Regions from separate parts of the Homo sapiens genome. Here region 1 is linked to region 2. A link means that fine-mapping ties the variant in region 2 to the expression of a gene that starts in the linked region. Tissue or cell type: regulatory T cells. Region 2 holds a variant in brackets; the other region holds the start of a gene. All regions are shown on one strand. Distances are from middle to middle.

The links. PIP is the estimated chance that this variant, and not a neighbour inherited with it, causes the effect.
Region 1: ARHGAP21 starts here. The variant in region 2 is fine-mapped to the expression of ARHGAP21 in regulatory T cells (Bossini-Castillo 2019, PIP 0.95).

The regions. Positions count from the first base shown.
Region 1 is chr10:24,722,536-24,725,291 of GRCh38, reverse strand. ARHGAP21 (Rho GTPase activating protein 21) reads left to right here and starts at 1,405. Exons shown (of 26, transcript NM_020824.4): 1 at 1,405-1,730. RefSeq lists silencers at 286-665, 1,416-1,605, 1,636-1,705, 1,796-1,875, 1,896-2,255 and 1 more and an enhancer at 962-1,872.
Region 2 is chr10:24,608,718-24,611,473 of GRCh38, reverse strand. All of the region lies in intron 9 of ARHGAP21 (Rho GTPase activating protein 21), which reads left to right. Among named protein-coding and RNA genes, the nearest start is that of ARHGAP21, 110 kb to the left of the region's middle. The variant TG/G (reference allele first, on the strand shown) is at 1,101.

The sequences.
Region 1 (2,756 bases), 110 kb before region 2:
AAGATGTAAAAACTAAGGCGCAGGTACTCCAGCTGCAGGGAGTGTTTTTTGTCCCCGCTCCCCTGTCCCCCATAAAGAAACAGGACCTCAGGTGGTGGGCGGGCGGGGAAGGAGAAGGGATGTTTCTAAGTCTACAGGGGAGAGTGTAGAAAGAAAGAAGGAAAAGGTAAGAGGACTCCACAGTTTCTAGGTTTTGTTCTTCTTTTTTTCCCTCTGGACAGCGGTGGCAGCTGATCAGACACAATAGCTGGCAGTCCCCGGCCGCAGTGAGGATAAAAATGACCCTCAACAGCACCAGCAGGAGCACCGAGAAGGGGAGGGGAGTGTGTATGGGAGGGGGCGAGGATGAGGGTGACAAGGTGACAAACGCTGCCTCTGACTGCGAGCAACTCCCCCTCCAGCCCCGCGAGGCTCGGAGCCGGGGAGCCACCTCCCCGGAGCGGGGCGGGGTGGGAAGGAGAGGCCGAGGGGGCGGTGGCCTTCACCCGGGGGCGGGGAAGAGGGCGGAGGGAAGCCTGATTTACCAGCCCCTGATTGGTTCGCGTTCTCTCGTCGCGTCTCCCGATTGGGTAATTTGCAGCGGGAGATGTTGTGAGGCACGGCGGGGCGGAGCGAGCTGCCGGGGTCTGTGACAAGGCCCGGGAATTGGGTGGGGAGGGTGGCGGTTGTGCCGCGGCTCCGGAGCCGCTGTGACCTGGAGTGTGGCGGACAGAGAAGCGCAGCCGCCTCTCCACAGTTCCGCTAGCCGCGCCAAATTCGCTCAGCCGCTCTGCAGAATTTATAAAAGGGAAAGAACTGAATGAGCAACGCTTGGCTAACTTCCCCCTTCCCACCACAGGAAGAGATTTTTGCTGTGAGGCGTGAGGGGACACTCCCTTATCTGGAAGTCCCACGTCTCGTCGCAGCTTCATTGCCTTCCCGCTGCAAAAAAGGGGTGGGGGCACAATTTGCCAAGCCCTGTCCCCCAATCTAGGACCTTTGATCCCTGGAGTCTGCAGATGTCGCTGTTATAGGCTTGTCCCCCTCTCCACCCCAGACGTCTACCACCAGGTCTCCTTTCCCGGGAGCAAGCCCATCCCTGGACGCTGCCGTTCAGCGCTTGGGAGACTGCAGGGGCGGGGAGCGTTGTGTGCCTGGTTTTGGGGTGCTGGGGGGCGAGGGCTTGTAGGTCCCGCGACCCACGGGGAGGGGGCAGGCGAGCACCCCGCTCCGGCCTCCGGCTAATCCCCCTTCTCCAGCGTCGGTTCCCCGGTCCCGTGTTATTCAAGACAGAAAATATTCAGCCCCAGAGCCTCCCCTGGGGAGGGGAGGGGAAGGAGGTGGAGTGGGAGGAGGTGGATCCAGGGAGGAAGAAGCGAGAAATCCGCCCCCGGGAAACAGCTCCGCGCGGCCACGGAGCGAGGCGCTTCTGTCACTTGGCGTTCGCGGGCGCCGGAGCTGGGCCCCGGCCCGGCCCGGCGAGGCGAGGGGAGAGTCCGGCGGCCGCCGCCCCGCCCCACGCCCTCCTGCGGCGGCCGAGAGCCCGGGGCCGGCCGGGGCAGGTCGCGGCGGTGCCTGGGAGCGGCCGGCCGGGGGCGGCGGCCTCGGAGCGCGGCGGCGGCGGCGGCGGCGGCGGCGGGCAGCGCGGGATCGTCCGGCTGCGGGGTCCGGCTCACGCCGGGCGGGCGGGCGGGGCGCGCTGTCCCGGAGCCGGCCAGCCCCGTGCGGATCCACTCGTCCCGCTTCCTCTGGTGCGTGTCTGGTTTCTTTTCCGTCTCAGCCGAGAGGGCGCTGCGCTCGCGGGCCGTGGAGTGCCCGGCTTGCCGCGGGCTCTCTCCCTTCCCGCCACAGGCCACCCGGCCGGGCGCTGGCTCGGGGCCGGAGGGAGCCCGCGGCGGGCGCCCGGCGGGGGCGGAGGGGCCGCGCCCGCGTGTGCGGAGCAAGGGCGGGCGGCGGGGCGGAGGGAAGGGCACAAAGGCCGGCGGTGGGCGCTGGGGTCCGGCCGGCCAGCCTTGGAGGAGGGGCGCCTGGGGCCGCTCATGAATATTAACCGAGCCTGCGGCCTAGCGCGTCCCGGCCGGGCCCGGCGCCCGGCCAGCGTCTCCGCTTCAGCTCGCCGCCGCGCTTCGGCCGCCGGGCCCGAGCGGGCGGGAAGGGTAAGGCCCCCGGTTTTGTCTCGCCCCGGGGCTCCTAGCACCTTTGAGAAAGTCCATATTGGGGCCGCTCTCCTCGGGAGCTCGAGGTCCCCGACCCGCCTCAGGAAGGGGCGGGGGAATCGTGGGGAGGTGGGTGGTGGTTTGCTTTTTCTCGTTTTTTCCCCCTAGGTGGCCACAGGGGAAGGGAAGCCGTGTCGAGTGGTAGTTGGGGGAAAAGCCGCGACTTCAGAGTTGCTCGGGTGTAGCTCCAGAATCATGCCCTGGAGCGGGAGCGGCGCCGGCGTCCCACCCGCGGCCGCGCACGCCTCCCCGGCCGTCCCCACCCAGCCCCGCCGCGGGCCAAGGAAAACAGCCGCCTCCTCGGGGACGCCGGCCGGGGCGGAGGGGCGGAGGGGCGGCGCCCGAGTCACCCGGAGACGCCGCCGAGCCCACGCCGGCCCCAGCCAGGCTGGCTTTGTGCTTGCGTTTTTGGGGGGCGGAGGGGAGCGAAGAGGGGGCTTGGAAAGTGTGATCCCATTTCAGCCTCGTGGGGGAGAAAACTTCACCGAAGTGTCCCTGTCTGGGTGATGCAGAAAACAACATGCACAGCCCTCTGCTCTACCCAGGAAAGACATGAATTAA
Region 2 (2,756 bases):
CCTTGGCCTCCCAAACTGCTAGGATTACAGGCATGAGCCACCGCGCCTGGCCTGTGAGTCTTTTTTCGTTTTGCTTTCTTCATTCTCAGATTCTTTTTCTCCACATAGTAGAAAAGGTGGCCGTTGGTGACAACTCAACAGTTTACTGATTTCTACAGTTTTTGTTCTCCAAGGATAAGAAGAGAAAGTCCATAGTTTTCTCACTGTCCATGTATTGAATCCTAGAGATACTATTAATATAAGGGGCCCTGACTGCGTGGTTCTCGCCCCTTGGCCAGTCTCTGTGGATTGAGAGGGATAGGCCCTATGGTTGGTCAGGCCTAGATCATGCCCGCCCACAGGAGGGCCAGCCGCTCCTGTGAATCCCACTGAACCTCTGGGATAGACAAGCATAGACACTCTCTGTAGTTATCTTGCGGAACACGAAGAGGAACAAATAGGATGAGAACATCTTAAAGTGAAAATACTTGTCAGTTTATGAGATGAAAAAACAGTTATAAATCACTGTTTCATCTTGCTTTTATTTGATCATTTCAGTAATAGGTTTTTACCAGTATTTTTTACATTTTTATTTGGCTTTTGTATTTCTTCCATGAGTTGTCTTTTCATGTGTTTCGCTCTTTCCACTGTGATTTTAGTGGTCCTTACTTATAAGAACTCTTCATATAGGAGGGCTTCCCTTCTTTCATGCTTTGATATCTGAGAAATTATTATGTAACATGTATGAATTTTCACAATATGAAATCTTTAAGATGTTTTTCTAAAATATTAATTGATAAGCAATAAACAGTGAAAGTTTCCTATTCAGATACGAATAATAAATAGAAACATAATTTGAAATACTCTCCATTTGGAAAAAATCCAAATTGAATAATGGAGTAGATTTTATCTGTGAGGATTATTTACTTTTGGAAAACATTGTTTTCCAAAGCAAAATTTTTGGATATATAGGCCTGTATTTTTTTTTACATGTTAAGGAACAGTAGCCACATTGAATTTTGATGTGTAGCAACTTAGGTGTCCTTCACCGTTCTTTTTATTATAAAGAGCTCTGGGTCTTTTAGTGAAGAAAGTAAATGAAGACTTTTTTTTTTTTTTTT[TG/G]TGACAGAGTCCTCTGTTGTCCAGGCTGGAGTGCAGTGGCATGATCTCAGCTTACTGCAGCTCCGCCTCCCGGGTTCAAGCGATTCTCCTGCCTCAGCTTCCCGAGTAGCTGGGACTACAGGCGCGCACCACCATGCCCAGCTAATTTTTGTATTTTTGGTAGAGACAGGGTTTTGCCATGTTGGCCAGGCTGGTCTCGAACTCCTGACCTCAGGTGATCCACCCGTCTTGGCCTCCCAAAGTGCTGAGATCACAGGCGTGGGCACCACGCCTGTCCAAGACCTCGTTTCTTAAGTCAGTTCTTTGATTACGTAGTTTAACACGAATGTTTATGCCACTTAATAAATCTGTAACCCCAGTAGTTCATAAGTATGTTTTGAATGCATTATTTAATGTCTTAATGTAGTATGTGATATGCCTAGGATAAAGATGATTGATTTTCATCTAACAGAATATTTTATTTAAAAATTTAGAAGTCATTTGAAAGTGTGACAGCATGATGCTTTTGAATATATTTGTATATGAGATGAAAAATTTTTGTTTTCCGTTTGGTCAACTAAATAATATGTATTTTTCTACATTGGAAAATAAGATAAATTGGAATTATTCTTGTTTTTACATAATATGCACATTGGTAATAATTAAAGTGTATGTGAAAAGTAGAGTTTTTGAATTTGGATTATTCCTAACGAACACAGTATTTTTAAACCGGTAGAAAAGTCTTTATATTTTCAAAGGGAATCAAGAATTGGATTAGTATAGTCTGTAAATGTGAGGTAATGTAATTGTGTTTACTTTAAAAGTATGTTTAGCTTTTCCTTTTCTCCTTTTAACATACCAGTAAAAGGAATTTATTATAAAGAATGCAACAATACTGAAATGAGTAAGCCCAATGTTAGTCTCTTCTCCCACGCCTTCTCCATTCAGTCCTCCTTTAGAACAGGTGAGTATCTATCCTCCCACCTGTTTTTGCAGACATATCTAAAACTGATTATTTTAATCCAGTGTGTTTCAGAAATGTTCTCCAAAATATAGTAAGTTGGAAGAGATTGAATGAATACCATCAGGAAATCCAGGGACACAAAATTTGAAAATTGTATTTAATGCTTTGCAATAATGCTTAATCCATGCACAATTTGAATTTCACTCTCTTTAGTTTTGCAAGGCATAAAATCATTCTCCTCAAAGATTTATCCCAGTATAATTAAAGATGTATTCATACTGCATGAGTCAGATACTTTTTGAAGAATACAGTGTATTCCTCTTCACATCAGTATTCATTAATCTGTAACAGAATTATGGATCAGCAGACTCTATAAAACCAGGCTGCTTTATATGATGTATCATTTGAAGAAACTTTGTTAAACATGTGCAATTTAAATATCAAAATCAGTTTTAAATACTACAAGTTTTAGTGAAATTAAATTGTTATCCTCATTGAATTTTTAAAACTTCAGTTATCTTCTTGCTTTTGGAAAAAGAATTACTGCATTCTTACTGACATAATAGTAAACTGTCGTATACTTAGTAAAAAGTGGTGCATAGAGAAATTTTCAAAATGTCTTCTCTTCCTAAAATGTAAAGAGCTGCTTTTAAAGAAAGTTGTAAAAACAGAAAATAAGCTAAACACAGTTAGAATTTACTGATTTTGGCCA